Homo sapiens: one gene and its partners. The protein of the gene in region 1 interacts with the protein of each later gene in a pairwise test. Each region holds a gene or a part of one and is shown in the gene's direction. Other genes may lie near its edges.

Evidence for each region.
Region 2: the proteins of SNX20 (region 1) and TACC3 interact in binary tests that used the Homo sapiens proteins (3 or more experiments, as listed by UniProt).
Region 3: the proteins of SNX20 (region 1) and ALAS1 interact in a two-hybrid assay, tested with the Homo sapiens proteins (one large-scale study listed by BioGRID and IntAct).
Region 4: the proteins of SNX20 (region 1) and PECAM1 interact in binary tests that used the Homo sapiens proteins (3 or more experiments, as listed by UniProt).
Region 5: the proteins of SNX20 (region 1) and BDNF interact in binary tests that used the Homo sapiens proteins (3 or more experiments, as listed by UniProt).
Region 6: the proteins of SNX20 (region 1) and GMCL1 interact in a two-hybrid assay, tested with the Homo sapiens proteins (one large-scale study listed by BioGRID).

Annotation. Positions count from the first base shown.
Region 1 is NC_000016.10:50,671,313-50,674,812, reverse strand, and holds the end of SNX20 (sorting nexin-20), read left to right. Parts: intron 1-738; coding exon 739-1,407; 3' UTR 1,408-3,184; downstream 3,185-3,500.
Region 2 is NC_000004.12:1,731,521-1,735,020, forward strand, and holds part of TACC3 (transforming acidic coiled-coil-containing protein 3), read left to right. Parts: intron 1-3,500. UniProt on the Homo sapiens protein: Plays a role in the microtubule-dependent coupling of the nucleus and the centrosome. Involved in the processes that regulate centrosome-mediated interkinetic nuclear migration (INM) of neural progenitors.
Region 3 is NC_000003.12:52,201,160-52,204,659, forward strand, and holds part of ALAS1 (5-aminolevulinate synthase, non-specific, mitochondrial isoform 1 precursor), read left to right. Parts: intron 1-1,347; coding exon 1,348-1,575; intron 1,576-2,703; coding exon 2,704-2,853; intron 2,854-3,500.
Region 4 is NC_000017.11:64,359,861-64,363,360, reverse strand, and holds part of PECAM1 (platelet endothelial cell adhesion molecule precursor), read left to right. Parts: coding exon 1-212; intron 213-2,945; coding exon 2,946-3,221; intron 3,222-3,500. UniProt on the Homo sapiens protein: Cell adhesion molecule which is required for leukocyte transendothelial migration (TEM) under most inflammatory conditions.
Region 5 is NC_000011.10:27,690,456-27,693,955, reverse strand, and holds part of BDNF (neurotrophic factor BDNF precursor form isoform a preproprotein), read left to right. Parts: intron 1-2,815; exon of another isoform or gene 2,816-2,850; intron 2,851-3,500. UniProt on the Homo sapiens protein: Important signaling molecule that activates signaling cascades downstream of NTRK2. During development, promotes the survival and differentiation of selected neuronal populations of the peripheral and central nervous systems.
Region 6 is NC_000002.12:69,836,160-69,839,659, forward strand, and holds part of GMCL1 (germ cell-less protein-like 1), read left to right. Parts: intron 1-1,387; coding exon 1,388-1,511; intron 1,512-3,297; coding exon 3,298-3,394; intron 3,395-3,500. UniProt on the Homo sapiens protein: Possible function in spermatogenesis. Enhances the degradation of MDM2 and increases the amount of p53 probably by modulating the nucleocytoplasmic transport.

The DNA of each region.
Region 1 (3,500 bases):
TTCTTACCATATAACGGCATCACCAGTGTACCTAAATGATGTTATATTGTACGTAAAACTAATTCCCAAGTGTGAAACATTTGGAAAACACAGCATCTCAGTTCAGAAAACAGAGGCCCAGTTTTAGCAAGTAAAGCCAAGAGGGACCCCAGCAGCCTGCAGGGCAGGACCCTCTGCCCTTTCTCCTCCCAGATGTCCCCACCTTGCTGTGTTGTTGTTCCAGGGTTGACTCAGCTGATGCCAATAGCAATTTAAAACAGAATTGGGCCAGGTGCAGTGGCTCATGCCTGTAATCCCAGCACTTTGGGAGGCCCAGGTAGGAGGATCGCTTGAGCCCAGGAGTTGGAGACCAGCCTGGGCAACACAGCCAGACCCCATCTTTTAAAAAAAATCAAAAAATCTGCCAGGTAGTGGGTGTGCCTGTAGTCCCAGCTACTCAGGAGGCTCAGGTGGGCAGGTCAATTGAGCCCATAAGTTCAAGGTTGCAGTGAGGTATGATCGCATCACTGTACTCCAGCCTGGGTAACAGTGCGAGACCCTGTCTCTAAAAATAAATAAATAAATAAATAAATAAATAAATAAACAAACAAACAAACAAACAAACAAACAATTGCATATAAGGATCGCCCGTTTTCAGGGCATGCTTTACACCGGCCTGGTTAACTTTACTCTGGGTGTGCTCCGTCCGCCGCAGCCCCCGCCGGGAGGTGGCCACAGCTCTCTCTGGTTGCGCCCTAGGTGTACCAAATCATCGTCATCCAGACTGGGAGCTTTGACAACAACAAGGCCGTCCTGGAACGGCGCTATTCCGACTTCGCGAAGCTCCAGAAAGCGCTGCTGAAGACGTTCAGGGAGGAGATCGAAGACGTGGAGTTTCCCAGGAAGCACCTGACTGGGAACTTCGCTGAGGAGATGATCTGTGAGCGTCGGCGCGCCCTGCAGGAGTACCTGGGCCTGCTCTACGCCATCCGCTGCGTGCGCCGCTCCCGGGAGTTCCTGGACTTCCTCACGCGGCCGGAGCTGCGCGAGGCTTTCGGCTGCCTGCGGGCCGGCCAGTACCCGCGCGCCCTGGAGCTGCTGCTGCGCGTGCTGCCGCTGCAGGAGAAGCTCACCGCCCACTGCCCTGCGGCCGCCGTCCCGGCCCTGTGCGCCGTGCTGCTGTGCCACCGCGACCTCGACCGCCCCGCCGAGGCCTTCGCGGCCGGAGAGAGGGCCCTGCAGCGCCTGCAGGCCCGGGAGGGCCATCGCTACTATGCGCCTCTGCTGGACGCCATGGTCCGCCTGGCCTACGCGCTGGGCAAGGACTTCGTGACTCTGCAGGAGAGGCTGGAGGAGAGCCAGCTCCGGAGGCCCACGCCCCGAGGCATCACCCTGAAGGAGCTCACTGTGCGAGAATACCTGCACTGAGCCGGCCTGGGACCCCGCAGGGACGCTGGAGATTTGGGGTCACCATGGCTCACAGTGGGCTGTTTGGGGTTCTTTTTTTTTATTTTTCCTTTTCTTTTTTGTTATTTGAGACAGTCTTGCTCTGTCACCCAGACTGAAGTGCAGTGGCTCAATTATGTCTCACTGCAGCCTCAAACTCCTGGGCACAAGCAATCCTCCCACCTCAGCCTCCCAAGTAGCTGGGATTACAGGTGCACACCACCACACCAGGCTAATTTTTAATTTTTTAGTAGAGACAGGGTCTCTCTGTTGCCCAGGCTGGTCTCTAACTTCTGACCTTAAATGATCTTCCTGCCTCAGCTTCCCAAAACACTGGGGTTACAAGTGTGAGCCACCACCCCTGGCCTGGGGTTCATTTTTAATGGGAAAAGCCACTGGGGGCTCTAACTCGCTGGGTGACTTTGGACAAGCCCCTCCTCTGGTCCTCAATTTCTCCATCTGTATTGGACAGAGGTGCTCCTGGGACCCCTTGGAAGCCTCTGCTTGTGTCCCACGTCCTCTTGATGCCAGGGCCACTTCATCTCCAAAACACAAAACCAACTGCCAAAACCGTCCAGAGCAGTGTCCACCCCACCAGTGTCTTTGTGGGAAGCTGGAGAAGAAGTTTACCTCACACATTCTAGACAAAACTTAGTCCATTTCCTTGAAGACAGTTCTCTCCAGCTGCTCCAAGGCTTTTCTCTCTGTTCCTTCCACCTTGGAATTGCTTTAAAATATTTCCATCCATTATCCTAATACTATCTTAGTATTCTAGCCCTTCCCCCTTACCATGTAGACCTGACAAAGCAAAACAAAAGCTCACCTATTGCCCTCAAGAACAGCCTCTACACACACACACACACACACACACACACACACACACACACACACGGTGGGAGTTGTATGCCATCCTTTTGAAGGGTGGGAGGACCCTGGACCAGAAAGCAATAATGGCATAAGATTCTGTGATACCAGGCATTTTTGGCAAGGGAAGTTGCCAACAATTTTTCTGGCTGGGATGGCATAGCACATTGTCTAGGGGTGGATTTTCATTCATAAGGCAGCTGTTCCCTGAATGGCTTCCCTGGGTTATGTAGAAACAGCCTGGGGAGGAGGTGATACAACATACTTAATGGGGCCTCTGGGCAGAAAACAGACTGAATCCTCAACACTGCCCCTTTTGAGGGTCTGTGATCCTGGAACTTCTCTGATGGACTGGGATGCCCTTAACTGAGGTCTGCTGTCTGGAAAGGACACCACAGGCCCAGAATGAAGGGGCATCTGGACCAATGACCTAGATTCAACACAGGGCTTGGAGCTGGTGGTACAGGCTGGTTTTGGCCCAATGTGTGTTGGAGGCTGGAAGCCCCTGAAGACCTAAACTGCCTGGATGAGCTTATTAGGGTGAATTAATGAGTCTGTAATTTGGGAACCTTAATGTGAGACACCACTTAAGGAGAGGAACTTGGCCCAGCAAGTGATCACTCTAGAAGTGGACAGCTATGCACTAGACTGCACCAGAATCTGTTCAACAGCGACACCTTGTGGTAAAAACTGTAGACGCCCCATCAGGCTGGATGGGAAACTAGAAACAGACTGTCTCATCTTTGGACAGATATCCCTCAAATCTCCCAATCTACTCCAGGGAAAAGACACTTCAAGTGAGAGATATTGGACTTCTTGAAAATCTAGGCCTATGGAAAATTAAAGTGTTAAATGGAAAAATTAAAGAGCTATGAGTCTATTTGTAATGATGAAACAGATGATATTGATTTTGTCAGTTATTTCTTCAAATCTAAAATGCTATCAACAATATGCAACAAATGTTTACTAACAAAGAAAAAATACCCAACATGGACAGTTTAATGGGATATTCCAGCACAAAAGCTGGAAAAGCAAAGAGTTAGACCCCCGATATGAGGGTTAACACCAAATAAGCCTGTTGTACAGGAGGGGACATTAAGGAAATTTGCACAAACTAAACTTGGCACTGGGTGGAGTACAGGGAACTTCCTCTGAGAATTTGAACTGCAAGCGGGCACTCGCCCATGTTTTAGGGCTGAATACACACAGCA
Region 2 (3,500 bases), on another chromosome or scaffold:
TGGAAACTGTAGACTCAGGAAAATGAGCAGGAGAGGTGAACAATGCAGTGCGCTAATGAGATACAAGTGTAGAGTCAACAACTGGATACTCGATCATCAGAAATACTGCTTGAAACGACCTTCTTTTTTTTTTCTGAGATAGTCTCGCTCTGTCACCCAGCCTGGAATGCAGTGGCACAATCTGGGTTCAATGCAACCTCCACTTCCCAGGTTCAAGAGATTCTCCTGCTCAGCCTCCCAAGTAGCTGGGATTACAAGCATGTACCACCACATCCAGCTAATTTTTGTACTTTTAGTGGCAACGGGGTTTCACCATGTTGGCCAGGCTGGTCTCAAACTCTGACCTCAAGTGATCCACCTGCCTCGGCCTCCCAAAGTGCTGGGATTGCACGCGTGAGCCCCCGCGCCCGGCCCAGAACCCCTTGATAATGAAATGTGAAGCCTGAACCTTAGACACCAGACTGCAGTTAAATACGGTTTGTCCGTAAGACTGGAGGCTGCAGTTGAATACGGTTTGTCCATAAGATTGGAGGCTGCACTTGAATACGGTTTGTCTGTAAGATTGGAGGCTGCAGTTAAACATGGTTTGTCCATAAGATTGGAGGCTGCACTTGAATACGGTTTGTCTGTAAGATTGGAGGCTGCAGTTAAATAAATACGGCTTGTCCGTAAGATTGGAGGCTGCAGTTAAATAAATACGGTTTGTCCGTAAGATTGGAGGCTGCAGTTAAATAAATACGGTTTGTCCGTAAGATTGGAGGCTGCAGTTAAATAAATACGGTTTGTCCGTAAGATTGGAGGCTGCAGTTGAATACGGTTTGTCCGTAAGATTGGAGGCTGCAGTTGAATACGGTTTGTCCGTAAGATTGGAGGCTGCAGTTAAATAAATACAGTTTGTCCGTAAGATTGGAGGCTGCAGTTAAATAAATACGGTTTGTCCGTAAGATTGGAAGGTGGAACGGTCCTTAAATTAAAGTGCATTTGGTAGGAATTGATGGCTGAGTTGTTTTAAAGGACACACAGCCAGGTGGGTATAAGATCTCAATTTAGAGAACTGAAAACCCAGGCACACAGCAGACACGAATGGCATGTAGGGTTTGTCGCTGACAGGATAGTTGTGGGCCGCCACCATGTGGGGATATCAGCTCAGCTGGGATGGGCCTGTCACCCTCACGCAGGATCCCTGGAATCACACAGCACGGCCTTCTGTGTCCGGCGTCTCCCTCGGGGAGGTGTGTTTCCGAGTCCTGGCCATGCTGGAGCAGGTGTGGGTGCTCCTGTCCTTGCCGTGGCAGCTTGGCTTCACATCATCTTATCCATTCATTCATGGATTTGCTGGTTTCTGCTTTTTAGCTGTCAGGAGTAGTGCTGCCTCGAATGTTCAGGTGTAAGTTCTATGTGGATGTATTCTTCCATTTCTCCTGGATACATAGCTAGGAGTGGAGTCGCTGGTCACAGTAACTCTGCTCACCTTTTAGCTACCAGGTGGCCTTCCAGAGTGGCTGCAGTGTTTCACATTCCCACTGGCAGTTATAAGAGAGCTCCAGTTTCTCCACATCCTCGCCAGCGCTGCTTGTCTGTCTTGTTGATCCTAGACTTCCAGCGGGTGGGAAGCGGATCTGGTTGCGGTTTTGATTTGCAGTTCCCAGGTGGCTCATGAACGAGCGTCTTTTTATGTGCTCGTTGGATATCTTCTTTGGGAAAGTGTCTGTCGAGATCCCTTGTCCATTGAGCCACTTATGTTTTTATTACTGAGTTTTAAGAGGTAAATCCCTTTTATTCAAGAAGTGAGGGAAAGGAAAAAATACAAAGTTAAGTCCCTTATCAGATGATGTTTCAAAGTATTGGCTTTTGGCCAGGCATAGGGGCCCACACTTGTAATCTCAGCATTTTGCGGGGCCGAGGCAGGATTGTTTGAGCCCTGTAGTTTGAGACTAACCTGGGCAACATGGCAAGACCTCATCTCTACCAAAAAAAACCTTTTTTTTTATTACCTGGCATGGTGGCGTACACCTATAGTCCCAGCTGCTCGGGAAGCTGAGATGGGAGGCTCGCTTGAGCCAGGAGGTCAAGGCTGCAGTGAGCCATGATTGCACTACTGCACTCCAGTCTGGGCGACAGCGAGACCCTATCTGAAGGAAAGAAAAAAAAGGCAGAAATGAAAACTGACAACAAGGCTAGGTGCGGTGGCTCACGCCCGTAATCCTAGCACTTTGGGAGGCTGAGGAGGGCGAATCACCTGAGATCAAGAGTTTGAGATCAGCCTGGCCAACATGGTGAAACCTCATCTCTACTAAAAATACAAAAATTAGCTGGGTGTGTTGGCACATGCCTGTAATCCTAGCTACTTGGGAGGCTGAGGCGGGAGAATCGCTTGAACCCAGGAGGCGGAGGTTGCAGTGAGCCGAGATGGCGCCACCGCACTCCACCTGAGCAACAGAGCAAGACTCTGTCTCAAAAAAAAAAAAAAGAAAAGAAAACTGACAAGGCCATAGCAGAGAAGGACCTACAAGTTTTTGCTAGACTAAATAATTGGCAACCGTTTTTTAGCTTAATTGAGAAAAGGAGAGAATGAGCAAATACTGCTAGGCATGAAGAAAGGGACAAAACTAGAGATGCCTCAGCCTGGATCTCAGCCAGATCAAGACCCTGTCTTAAAGTACCAGTTTGGTTTGTTTTTTTCCCGAGACGGAGTCTTGCTCTGTCGCCCAGGCTGGAGTGCAGTAGCATGATCTCAGCTTGTTGCAACCTCCGCCTCCTGGGTTCAAGCGATTCTCCTGCCTCAGCCTCCCAAGTAGCTGGGATTACAGGCTCATGCCACCGTGCCCAACTAATTTTTGCATTTTTCGTAGAGACAGGGTTTCCCCATGTTGGCCAGGCTGGCCTCAAACTCCTGACCTCAGGTGATCCACCTGCCTTGGCCTCCCAAAGTGCTGGGATTACAGATGTGAGCTACTGCGCCCAGCCACAGTTTAAGAGTTTTATAGTTTTAGAGGCCGAGACCGGAGGATCACTTGAAGTCAGGAGTTCAAGACCAGCCCTGGCAACGTAGCAAGACTCCTCCTCTACCAAAACAAAAAGTAGGATAGTTTTAACTCTCACAGTTAGGGTGTTGATCCATTCTGAGTTAATCTTTGTATGTGGTATGAGGCACCTTTTCTTTTTTTTTGCAACAGTTTTCCCTCCGCTGCCCAGGTTGGAGTGCAGTGGCATAATCTCAGCTCAGTGCAGCCTCCACCTCCCAGGCTCAAGGAGTTCTCCTGCCTCAGCCTCCCTGTAATAGGAGTGCAGCACCGCGCCTAGCTAATTTTTGTATTTTTTGTACAGACAAGGTTTTGCCCTGTTGAACTCCTGGGCTCAAGTGATCCACTCGCCTCAGCCTCCACCCTTAGTTTTAATCAAAAGTTATATTATCAAAAATTAAAAGACTTGTCTAGGGTAATTTTAAAGACTAATAGTTCTCAACCAGAGCAGTTTTGCCCCCGCCTTTCCCCAGATGT
Region 3 (3,500 bases), on another chromosome or scaffold:
TTCCAGAATGATGAAGAAAGACTTTTCTAGAAAGAAGGTGAATGAATTTGCTCAAGGGGAGAGGGAAGTCACTGTAGCTAGAAGGATAATTACCAGCCAACGGTGTTTAGTCAGCAGACTTTGATGAATTTAGATGAGAAAGTAGATGAGGTATGTGAATGTGATATACCCCTATTTTTTCTTACTTTATTAGCAATCTAAAGACCTAAGTCTTAGTCTAATTTCTGTTGTTTAGATGAAAACCAATAGCTTTTATGTTAAGCAACAGCAAGCCTCTTTGTCAAGAATCTGTTTAGAAAATGTCAGCAGAGACAGGATGTGGTGGCTCATGCCTGTAATTCCAGCACTTTGGGAGGCTGAGGCGGGAGGACTGCTTGAGCCTAGGAGTTTGATAGAAGCTAGGGCCACATAACAAGACTCCGTCTCTACAAAAAATAAAAAATAAAAAGAATTAGCTGGGCGCAGTAGAACACCTGCAGTCCAAGCTACTTGGAGAGCTAAGGTGAGAGGATCACTTGAGCCTGGAGGTCAAAGCTGCAGTTAGCTATGATTGCACCATGCACTCTAGCCTGGTTGACAGAGTGAGATCCTGTTTCAAAAAAAAAGGAAAGGAAAATGTTAGCAGAGAAAAAAATGTGTGTGAATATTTCCCGTTACCTTACAGAGTGTGTCCTCTCATAAAATAAGCTGAGTGTAGTTGGGGTAGAAATTACTGGAAATGATCCAACTCAAGGATTCCGGGTTGTCTAAAACTAGAAAATGGTACTTTTTTTGGATTTATGACGAGAAATACTGTGGGTTTAAGAGGCAACTGGAATGTGCCAGTTAACTCTTCATAGACGCATTGTTTCCTGTGAAGCAGATGAAAAACTAGAGAGATTAGCAGAACCTAATAAAAATAAGCTTGTGGCTGAGTGCAGTGGTTCACGCCTATAATCCCAGCACTTTGGGAGGCCAAGGCAGGTGGATAACCTGAGGTCAGGAGTTCAAGACCAGCCTGGACAACATGGTGAAACCCCATCTCTACTAAAAATACACAAATTAGCCAGGCATGGTGGCACACACCTGTAACCCCAGCTACTTGGGAGGCTGAGGCATGAGAATCACTTGAACCCAGGAGGTGGAGGTTGTAGTGAGCCAAGATTGTGCCACTGTACTCCAACCTGGGGTACAGAGCAAGACTCCATCTTAAAAACAAAACAAAACAAAAAAAACACTTGTGTCTGGATGGTGGGGTACAGTAAGTATTAAGTTTATCTTTGAGGCAATAAAAGAAAGAAATAAGTGGTTTTCTTACATACTGTGCAACCAGATCTGATGCTTCACTTTTTCCATTTCCTCCCTCAGAAGACAAAACTGCTAAGGCCAAGGTCCAACAGACTCCTGATGGATCCCAGCAGAGTCCAGATGGCACACAGCTTCCGTCTGGACACCCCTTGCCTGCCACAAGCCAGGGCACTGCAAGCAAATGCCCTTTCCTGGCAGCACAGATGAATCAGAGAGGCAGCAGTGTCTTCTGCAAAGCCAGTCTTGAGCTTCAGGAGGATGTGCAGGAAATGAATGCCGTGAGGAAAGGTAAGAGATGAGTTGTGAACCATTAGTGGTAGTGAAGGGGTCCTTTTAGTTCTTTTGGGCCCTCAGATTTGTGTATGAGCTATTATTAGGGCAGTATTTATGGAAACACCTTCCTCTTTTAGGGCCAGAGAGGAAGGTCTTCAAGATAGACAGTCAAGGGACTGTATTGCGAAAGTGGGACTTTCTTTCTGGTGCGTGTGTGGGATGTGACCAGCTTTTATAGTTACTACTTAATTTCTGAAAATAACCTGCAGTCTTGAGCTGCCACCAGCTGCCTTTTGTCCCTTTGGTCTTTCCCATCATCTGCTAGGATAAAGATAGAAAATAATGGTTTTACTGCAGTAAGTGCTGGTCCTAGGGCTCCCAAGCCGTGTGTCTTACTGATGGTCATTGAATTGCAACCTTAACTCCACAATATATAGGTGTGGCTATATCTGCAGAGAACTCAAGGCTCCCCAAAAGCCTAACCAGCAGAAATTATGCATATGGCCAAAATTGTTTTCTATGAAGAAAATTGAGATTAGGACCAGGCCCAGTGGCTCACACCTATAATCCCAGCACTTTGGGAGGCCGAGGCAGGTGGATCACTTGAGGCCAGGAGTTTAAGACCAGCCAGGCCAACATGGGGAAACCCCATCCCTACCAAAAATACAAAGATTAGCTGGGCATGATGGCGCATGCCTATAGTCCCATCTTCTCAGGAGGTTGAGGAGGGAGGATCGCTTGAACCCAGGAGGCAGAGGTTGCAATGAGTCGAGATCGTGCCACTGCTCTCCAGCCTGGGTGACAGAATGGGACTCTGTCTCAAAAAAAAAAAAACAGAAAATTGAGATTAGGATTGGGGTGGGGATGTAGTGGAGTGAATAAGACATGCCAACCAGCAAGAAAGCTTTGGACTTTATTGTTCATTAAAGCTGGCCAGTAGCTCTGAAAACAACACCAAGAGTCTGCCATTACAGTAACTAAAATAGAAGAGATGCTTTGTACACTCAGTTATAACTAACTTTGGTTATGCTTGGCCTTTTTTGTGAACTAGGCCATAAGCCATTTTTGACAATATGTTTGGAAGATATTGTGAACTCAGAATAGAAAGTTGGTCCCATTTGTTTCTTGTTACTTTTGTTCCAGAGGTTGCTGAAACCTCAGCAGGCCCCAGTGTGGTTAGTGTGAAAACCGATGGAGGGGATCCCAGTGGACTGCTGAAGAACTTCCAGGACATCATGCAAAAGCAAAGACCAGAAAGAGTGTCTCATCTTCTTCAAGATAACTTGCCAAAATGTAAGTCTCATTGTTATTTGCCTGATGTAGAAAAGAATTTATAATTCAAATGTACATTAGATTAAATATAAAATTGCATGGTGAGGCTGGGCACAGTAGCTCATACCTGTAATCCCAGCACTTTGGGAGGCTGAAGCGGGAGAAGATCACTTGAGGCCAGGAGTTTGAGGCCAGCCTTGGCAACATAGCAAGACACTATCTCTACCAAAACAGTTTTTTTAATTAGCCAGGCATGATGGCTTGCATCTATAGTCCCAGCTACTCAGGAGGCTAAGGTAGGAAGATTGCTTAAGCCCAAGACTTCAAGGTTCAGTGAGCTATGATCACGCTATTGCACTCCAGCCTGAATGACAGACAGAGACTCAGTTTCTAGGAAAAACAAAAAAATGTATGGTGAGTTGAGGCTTGAAAGCCATATCCCTTGCTTGCGTGAGCAGGTGCTTTTGGTTGTGGTGACTACAGGTGCTGTTGGTAGCCTGCCTTCTGTCCTTTAATACTTACCGTCTACACATGGCACTGAGCCAAACACGACATACAGTCTTATTTACTTACAAGATGAGGACATCAAATAACCTGCCCAGGATCTCCCTCAGTTGCCAAGCTGAGACTTGTTGTATTTCACCAAAATGCAGCTGTGTTTCACAACC
Region 4 (3,500 bases), on another chromosome or scaffold:
ACATCTGGACCAAGGTGAAAGACTGAACCTGTCCTGCTCCATCCCAGGAGCACCTCCAGCCAACTTCACCATCCAGAAGGAAGATACGATTGTGTCACAGACTCAAGATTTCACCAAGATAGCCTCAAAGTCGGACAGTGGGACGTATATCTGCACTGCAGGTATTGACAAAGTGGTCAAGAAAAGCAACACAGTCCAGATAGTCGTATGTGGTGAGTATATTGTTGCTGACTCAGAGGACATCCAGGGTTGAATGGGAGAAAGGAAATTTATCTGCAGCTGCCGCCCTCTCCGGTCTGAGCAGACTCAGGCAGGGTAAGAACTAGAGGGAGAGAAGTGCGAAATCAAAGGCCAAAGAAACAAGGAGGTATTCCTGCTCAGAACACTGATTCACTGATGATGATGTGGCCTCTGACTTGCTAAGATTCTGGCAAGATTCTGCCTCCTGGAGCAAGTACCCACCCAAAAGTTCAGGAAGGAAACACTACTTAGTCAATGTTAAACTTTTCTTTTTTTTTTTTTTGAGACGTGTCGCCCAGGCTAGAGTGCAGTGGCACGATAGCTCACTGCAACCTCTGCCTCCTAGGTTCAAGTGATCTCCTGCCTCAGCCTCCCAAGTAGCTGGGATTACAGGTGCCCACCACCATGTCTGCCTAATTTTTGTATTTTTATTTTTATTACTTTTATTTATTTATTTATTTATTTTTTTGAGATGCAGTCTCGCTCTGTCACCCAGGCTGGAGTGCAGTGGCACAATCTGGGCTCACTGCAAGCTCCGCCTCCTGGGTTCACGCCATTCTCCTGCCTCAGCCTCCCAAGTAGCTGGGACTACAGGCACCCGCAACCACGCCCGGATAATATTTTTTTGTATTTTTAGTAGAGATGGGGTTTCACCGTGTTAGCCAGGATGGTCTCCATCTCCTGACCTCGTGATCTGCCTGCCTCAGCCTCCCAAAGTCCTGGGATTACAGGCCTGAGCCACCACACCCGGCCAAGAATATCAAAATTCCATTTTTTAAATCTGTATCCTGGCTAACCCAAAAGGGTAAGACTTCCAGTGGACAGAATGTAGGTATTTGACCACCAGGAGCTGGGCTTCTCAGGCCTGAATGTGCATGCAAGACCTGGTTAAAATACAGGTTATGATTCAGTATTTTAGGCCCAGATGGGGCCAGGTTCTGCATCTCTAACTAGCATTTTGGTGATGTGGATGCTGTTGGTCTCTGGACCACACTTTGGGTGGCGAGATTCTGGTTGATTATAGAACTCCAGTCAAGTTGTCACTGTCACTATATTATTCAGTCACGATCCTTTCATTTAACCTGTGGCTGTGTTTTATCCAGCTAAGATTTTATTATAGCTTCAACTGAACCAGGATTTTAGCCTATTTTTAATGCTCTAACCACCTAACTCAAAAGGCAGGAATGCAAGAGACAAATGTGTGTTATAACGTTTTATTTTATTTTTTGTTCTTGGGAGGAGGAAATCTCATTGTATAAGGTTTAAATAAACTAATGCCTAAATAATGACCTAATATAATTCTTATCTGTTAAGAGGCTGAAGCACTAAGAAGACTTTTTTTATCTTTTTTTTTTTTTTTTTTTTTTGAGATGGAGTTTTGCTCTTGTTACCCAGGCTGGAGTGCAATGACATGATCTCGGCTCACTGCAACCTCTGCCTCCCGGGTTCAAGCGATTCTCCTGCCTCAGCCTCCCGAGTAGCTAGGATTACAGGCATGTGCCACCTTGCCCAGCTAATTTTGTATTTTCAGTAGAGACGGGGTTTCTCTACATTGGTCAGGCTGGTCTTAAAGTCCTGACCTCAGGTGATCTGCCCACCTCGGCCTCCCAAAGTGCTGGGATTACAGGCATGAGCCACCGTGACTGGCTGAGAATAATTTAAAAACATATATATTGGCTGGACCTGGTGGCTCACACCTGTAATCCCAACAATTTGGCAGGCCAAGGTGGGTGGATCACCTGAGGTCAGGAGTTTGAGGCCAGCCTGGCCAACATGGTGAAACCCCCTCTCTACTAAAAATACAAAAGTTAGCCGGGTGTGGTGGCACATGCCTGTAATCCCAGCTACTCGGGAGGCTGAGGCAGGAGAATCCCTTGGACCCAGGAGGTGGAGGTTGTGGTCAGCTGAGATTGCGCCATTGCACTCCAGCCTGGGTGACAGAGCAAGACTCGGTCTCAGAACACACACACACACACACACACACACACACATATATGCTCAGCCAGGTGTGGTGGCTCATACTTATAATCCCAGCACTTTGGGCAGCTGATGTGGGAGGATCACTTGAGTCCAGGAGTTCAAGACCAGCCTGAGCACATAGTGAGACCCTGTCTCTACAAAAAATAAAGAATTAGCCAGGTGTGGTGTGCACCTATAGTCCCAGCTACTCGGGAGGCTGAGGTAGGAGGATTGCTTGATTCTGGGAGGTTGTAGTGAGCTGTCATCGCACCAGTGCACTCCAGCCTGGGTAATAGAGTGAGACCCTGTCTCAAATACACACACACACACACACACACACACACACATTTTGTTGGCTACTTGTTGTACTTTTTCTATGTTTTCTGTGTCTTTGCTCAACACAAGAAAAGTATATTATGTGTGCATGTGCGTGTGAGATATGGTAAAATATGAACATGTATTTCTGGGGATGTAATGTTTTCCTTGAATTTCTGTCATTCTCTGTTTTGCTTATTGTACTTCTCTTTCCCTTTCCCTTCTCACCACACACACACACACACACACACACACACACACACAGCCTGTCAGTCTCATAGGTGTCCTATAAAGGTAAATAAGGCAGGCAGGCATTTGAAATTACAGCAGGGATAGAAAGCAAAGCTCAGGCTTTGGAGGAGGAACCTCTTGTGCTGGATGCTTTGCTTTTACCTTCAGTGCCTTTTGGATTGTTTCTCCCTCTGTTCTAGAAATGCTCTCCCAGCCCAGGATTTCTTATGATGCCCAGTTTGAGGTCATAAAAGGACAGACCATCGAAGTCCGTTGCGAATCGATCAGTGGAACTTTGCCTATTTCTTACCAACTTTTAAAAACAAGTAAAGTTTTGGAGAATAGTACCAAGAACTCAAATGATCCTGCGGTATTCAAAGACAACCCCACTGAAGACGTCGAATACCAGTGTGTTGCAGATAATTGCCATTCCCATGCCAAAATGTTAAGTGAGGTTCTGAGGGTGAAGGTGATAGGTAAGTTGCTGTGCTGTGAGAAGAAATCATGTGGGCTTGGGGCATTCTTTCACGCCCAGGGACTGTGGGAACAATAAGAGAAGTAGGGGGCCAGGTGCGGTGGCTCATGCCTGTAATCCCAGCACTTTAGGAGGCCAAGGCCGGTGAATCATTGAGGCCAGGAGTTCAAGACCAGCCTGGCCAACATGGTGAAACCCCATCTCTACTAAAAATACAAAAATTAGCTGGGCATGGTGGCGTGCGCCTATAATCCCAGCCACTCGGGAGGCTGAGGCAGGA
Region 5 (3,500 bases), on another chromosome or scaffold:
CGTGTGTGTGTATGCACATATATCTAAAGGGAGAGAGGGAGAAGGAAACTTACTAAATAAAATTTTTGCCACATGGGATTTAGTCTAATCAGTCTTGGTTTTGGAGTTGCTATCATCAGTAGTTCCATTTTGTGATTCTTTCTTTCTGCCTTCATGTGCCTTTGAAAACTGAAACTATGCCCAAATTAAAACAAGTTTTTCTGTCTTTTCACATGTTCACTTATTTCTTGAATGTGTTTTTAAACACAGACAAACTTCTTTTACATCATGTAGAATCTGAAGGTCGAGAAATTTGCAGTCATTTTGCTGGAGAGAGATGCTTGGCGGAGTCCCAGGCCACATTCCTAGGCCAAACTCTCGAAGGTATTCCTCTTATGCAACATTGGGAAAATACATCCAGCACCGACATGTTGGCTGATAATGTGTCTGAAGGCACAGACGATATGCTTATCATATGAAACATAAAGCCAGCAGATATTGCAGACATTCTGTTGAATGATAGAATCTGGATCATTTACATTTACTTAAATGTAAAATACTATGATTAAGTACAAAAAAATCAATTTAGGAGAGAATAGAGAGTTGCGGGCACGGTTTTAGGGGATGACTTATCAGCAGATTGTAGAAAGGAAGCTTGAATGTTTTAAATTAACTGCAAGTTCAGTATAAGCCAGTGGTGTGACAAGAGGCTGTTATCATAGCTACTGAAATTTTGGGCTGCACTGCTAGAAATATAATACTGAAATGGAGAAGCTAATAATTCTTCACTTTTTAAATAGACTGTATCTAGAATATTATCATCAGTTCAAGGAAATGAAATAAGTTGTTTTAGGTACATCATCGATAAATTAGTGTACATTCAAATCACTGTGACCAGGATGCATAGGGAATTTGAAAGCATTGCATGTGAGCAATGGTTGAGGGGACTTGGAATGCATGACTTAGGGACAAGAAAACTTAGGCTGGAATGGCAAGTGGTTTTTGAATGTTGGGTTGAGAAGAATTCTAAAACTGTGAAGGATTAGTAAAAATAACATTCAGATTGCTAATGCCTACTGTGGCTGGGAGATTAGAGTGTCAACATGTGTGATGTATTTTTGACATCCTTATTTTGAGGATGGGCTTCAAAGATTTGACGAACTGTCATAAGTGTAATTTGTGTTGCTTCAGACAGCAGTTCTAGAACCAATGATGTAAATTTAGATACTCTACATGGTAGTTAGAAAACTTTCCATTAATTTAATTTAGCAAATATTGAATGCTCACTGCATACAGAGCACTTTATTAGAGGAATATATAATAAAGAAAAAAGAGGTCTGGTGTGGTGGCTCATGCCTGTAATCCCAGCACTCTGGGAGGCTGAGGTGGGAGGATCACTTGAGCCCAGGAGATCATTACGAGTCTGGACAACATAGCAAGACCCCATCTTTACAAAAGACAAAAAAAATTATCCAAGCCTGGTGACAGGCACTTGTAGTCCCAGCTACTTGGGAGGCTGAGGCAGTAGGATCGTTTGAGCCCAGGAGGTTGGGGCTGCAGTGAGCCGTGATTGTCCCACTGCTCTTCAGCCTGGGTGACAGAGTGAGACCCCGTTGGAGGGAAGGAAGGGAAGGAAGGAAGAAAGGTAGGAAGGCTGAAATGAAACCCTTTTAGAAATGACACTAAAATGGGAGGTTGGAGTAAGGTATTTTCTGAAGTGCCTTTGTACTTGTTTTTTTCTAATGCATTGGCCATAAGTCTGCTCCTTATTTATAGTCCATAAACAATCCTAATGAGAACAGTTATATATTTCTGCCTTTGAATCATCTACTTGAAGTGTTTAGCATCATGAATTGAGTATCAGAAATCCCTCCCATTTCTTTGCAAAGCGCTGTATTTTACTTTTCCTTATTTGTATACAGATTCTCAAAATTGGCTATTTTTCCTTTGGGTTAGACAGAACAGAATGTCTGGAAAAAAAAGTTCTTATCAAATTCAGGTGCCCAAATTGCTTAAGAAATTAACTTTTGAGGTTATATTTTTTTAGGGTTCAGTAGCTAAACTAAGAAAACTTCTCACCGTTCACCTTCACTTTTGGAAACCACAAAATCTTCAGATATTACAGTTTTCCAAAGAGTTTCTCTTTTTAAATATAAACTAAAAGGAATTGACTCCTCCCCCAACTCCCTCAGGCCTCAGCATGGATAGAGTTACTTTTTTTCTTTAATAATTTATTTATAACTTATTTTGCTCTTCTGTAGAACAGCTGGAGATTAAGCAACATGGCCATGACATAAAATGCAAGTTAGACCATAAGATGAGCAGCCCACTCCAAGTATGAATGAGTACTTATTCTTTGTGATCTCTCATACTGCTTTTAGGTATTAATAGTGTCAGTCAGCAAAGCAAACAGTTTAATATTTACATCTCCTTTAGGATATCATATAGTTTATAGTTTGTATGTGTTCTTGCGTGTATGTTTTCTTCTGTTTCAAATTCTTTTTTCTTAAAGTAAGAATGTTATATGTAGCAAATGGTTCTTTCATTAATTCATTTGTTAATTCACCGTGCATTAATTGAGTGCCCAGTGAGTGTCAGGCACTGGGCTACTTGGATTTCTTTTCCCTGTATTGATCCATATATCTTCAGGTGCTCCTTGATATGGCTCTCCATTGACTCTCTCATATAAGGCTTTCATTACCTATTCACATACTCCCTCCCAAAGAGGACTGGTCCAAAAGTAAAATCTTGAGCAAGTTCTCTGAGTTATTTCAGAACTTCTTGCCCCCAAACTGTATTTTTAATTATTGACTGGTAGCATTTTGGAATAACTTACCTCTCTTTTTTAAAGATTGAAGTTCTTTATCCTCTCTGATTTTCAGGTGTCAGTTTGTGTACAAATTGAGACAATAAAAATGTTTGTTAGACATTTTCTTAAAGCATTTTGCTATGTGAGAATCTTTCATGAAGAACTCTTTTTAACAATGACTCTATAGCAGAAGCCACAGTAGAGGGAGAACTACTGAATCAAAGATGGTGTTTGAGTCTATGATTTTATGATGGATTTTTTTTTTTTTTACATACAAGGATATGCATGGGTCTTTTAGTATTCAGGAATCTGTTCTTCACTTGACAGTATTTATAAATTGTGTGTTTCCCCCTAAAAAAACTTAAATTGTGAGAATGCTTCCATTTACTAGAAGTTGGTTAATGATTATGCCAAATAAGGAAAATAAGACAGAAAAATCAGTTTAGTGAATACTATTTTGCCTTTAAATTTAGTAATTTAGTAACAGTATCTCTTTGGGGTTTACTAGAAACCACTTTTTAATCCAATAGGTCTCTTTCATTGTGAAGTCAGGAGGTGATTTTGCTTAAATGTGTAGTATAGGAATCTATATGTGGTGTTCAAGGATCATGTAAATATGCTGATATAATCGGAGCACAGTTTGGCATCATTAACTCAGAAATATTTAAACTCTTGCTATACAACATGGAAGCAAACTTGTGCATAGTTTGTG
Region 6 (3,500 bases), on another chromosome or scaffold:
GATGGGCAGATAAGCTTAGCCTCCATCCTAGTCCTCCATAATGTATTTTTTGGCTGTGGCTGTCACTGTTCTTTTTCATTTGAATTTGTTTTCTAACTTTCAGATCTGTATAAATCTCTCATCAAGTGATGAGCCTACCCTCACCTTTTCCTGGTGTGGACTTATTCCTTTTTTGTACTCTTAATCTTTAATGTAATTTGGGGAGGGATGGGAAGCCAACATGTGTACATTCTGCCGTCAGGAACTGGAAACTACATTGTCTCTTGATTTCGCATCATAACGAGTGAAGTGGATACTATTAATGTCCTCTTTTTACAGCTGTGATAACTGAGCAGCTGGGACTCAAACCCAAGTCTGTTACCACTAAGACATGTGCTGTTTTTATTGTCGGCTAGGAAGAGGTGTTAAGTACACAGGTGTTAAATTCGCCAATTCAGGATGTCATCTGAAACAATTACTTCATTTTTAAAAAGAGATTGAAGGTTTTATGTGCTAGGAAAGCTTTCAGAATTGGTCAGGAATTTAAGATATTGATCAGCCTCTGCCTAAGGCCTTTTCTTAGTTACTGGATCATTTTGAGCAATGATTTTCAAACTTTATTTTTTTAGTCAAGTCTTCCTTTAAATTAAATCTGTGCAGAAATCCAGTATGTTTACAGATAGAATAGGTGATGCTGCTCTGGTTGAAGTTAGATGGGATGCTCACAGTTCACTCCTTAGCTCTCCTTGGTGGCCCCTAAGACTTCTCCTTTGAGCAGTTTTAAAAACCTTTCATCTAAAATAAATAAATAAATAATTTTAAAAAACAAATAGGAAAAGAAAAGAAAACCTTTGATCTAAGGTTGCAAACCGTTTGTCCAGTGGCTGGAAAACATTTTAAGTAGTTTAAGAATAGGTTGGTACCAAAATAAGATTAAATGTAAATTATTTTAAAATTACTTGGGTAGGTGAAATGTTTACTCTTGTTCTCCATTTCCTACTTGCAGATTATTGCGCTATTTGAGCTCCTTCATAGTGCTGGTTTCTAAATAAGGAAATAAGCAAAAAATCAACATGCTAACTTCTTAATCTATTGAATGGGTAATTAAATTAGTCCAAAATTGCTAAAACATGTGTAGTGAAAAGTCTGCCTCCCATGCTGCCCCCCTTTCTCCACTATCTCTCCCGTGCATAGAGGACCCCAGAGATAACCACTATTATTAGTTTCTTATGTACTCTTCTAGACACAAGAAAATTTGAATATATACTATCTCCCTATCCTTTTACACAATAGGTAAGTTGACTCTATTTAATAGAAATTGAATAAAAGGAGTATTTAGAAATATATGCAAAATCAGTAAAACATTCAGTTTTATATAAATATGTGACTTTTTCATTTCTTTTAACAGGAAAAAATTAAAGAGTACATCTAAATATATTTATCAAACATTATTTTTGAATGGTGAAAACAGTGACATTAAGATTTGTGCTCTAGGAGAAGAATGGAGCTTACACAAAATATATTTATGTCAAGTAAGTATTTTTTCTATTTGAGTAACAGGGTAGTCACTGAAACTCTTAAGTCATGTTCTTCCTCATTGCACTTCACAGTAATCTTTTGCATGAACACCATAGTGGTTAAATCCTCTCATTTGATCAGTCTGTAAGAAAAATGGCAAACATTGTTAGTGAAAACTAAGTTTGGTCTAGAAAGAGATTTTGATATTTCAGTATCAGACTAGCCTAATACTACGTATTTGTCATTACTTCATAAAATGCTTTTTTCGGTGCCTTCTGTTGATAAAAGGGGAAAAGTTGGGGAAAAAATATTTAACATTAAAGTTAAGATTGTAGTGTTTATTTTGCTTATGGTTATTTAAATTGGATAAACTCATCTGAAATGTTGCTTTGTAGTTCACATTGAGTGTGAATAGAAAGTTCTCTCCTGAAAAATGCAGGTAAAGACAACACCAAAAAGTATATAGACTAAGTAGATTTCTGTACTGAAAATATTACTACCTGCCACCCCACTTTAAAAATTCAGAACTTTCATAGCTGACGTGGTGTTGGGCACCTGTAATCCCAGCTACTCAGGAGGCTGAGGCAGGAGAATTGCTTGAACCTGGGAGATGGAGGTTGCAGTGAGCTGAGATCGTACCACTGCATTCCAGCCTGGGCAACAGAGCGAGACTCTGTCTCAAAAAAAAAAAAAAAAAAAAAAAAAAAATCGGAGCTTTCAAAATAGAATACAATGTTGCTCTAATGGCCCAAATATTTTATTCATTTTCTTTCATCAAATCTATAAGCTAGGTATTGTTTGAGGCACTAGAAATAAAACAACAGTTTTTATCCTTTGGAACTTACATTTTTCCTCTTTACCATTTGAGAATAATTACTGGTAAGACAGCATAGTATAAAATTTTTCAGTAAAAGTATTTGAAAATGAATTGCCTTCTCTAACATTTTAATCATGTTTTAAAATGTGTTTTTGAAACAAATTTATTTTGGCTTGAAGTATGTTGCCCAGATACTATATCAGAATATTGCTTTTAACTTCAGGGTATGATTCATGTTGTTTCTTTTTAATATCTGAAAGCAGTTTTGTGAACTTGAGGGTAAGAATACCTCTGTTAAAACTTTACCCCTCGTGGAAGATGTATTATAATTCAAGCCACATGCTAAAATATAAGCCCCCTGAGGACAGAAACAATATCGATTTTGTTTATTGCTATATTCACAGTGCCTTCTACATACTAAGTACTCAGTAACATTTTTAAATAAATTAGTTAATATTTGATCCATTTCAAAGTAATTCTAATTATGAGGAGTGCTATCTGGCAGATACCTAAAGACTTCATTCTGTACCTTTCCAAGAATTCAGGTCCATTCTGGACATTTCTCATTAAACTAAATTTTGGATTTTCCCTGGTTTCTTTGGCGATCATCCTGTTTTTGCTGACTTGGGACTGGTTTGGTCCTTTATAGCCATTCAGGTGTACAGTAAAGATTCAACAGTTTGAGTAAAAAGCTAACCAGGTTCAAATAATATACATGAATTCAATTTAGATAGTAATATAAGAATTTTAGTTTTTTGTCAAAAATAGTACTAAACCAAAAGTATATTTTGATACACCTAATAGTGTCCTTATCTTAATTTCTTTTCTCCTGTGGACATATTTGGCAGTTCTTTTTCTGTTGAAGTAATAGAATGGATGAGTTTAGTTAATGGATAGAATAGTTGCTTAGAATTAGAAATGGGCAAATAATTTGGAAGACACAGAAAGTACTTGATAATCGTTGACTTTTTTTTTTGTTTAAGTCTGGCTACTTTTCTAGTATGTTCAGTGGTTCTTGGAAAGAATCCAGCATGAATATTATTGAACTGGAGATTCCTGACCAGAACATTGATGTAGAAGGTAACTACCACAATAATTACTATTATGCAACAATCGTAAAAACATAATCTTATTCTTCTGGTAGAAGATAAATAATTCCTTCCAGCCTTGTAGTCTAGAAAACTCC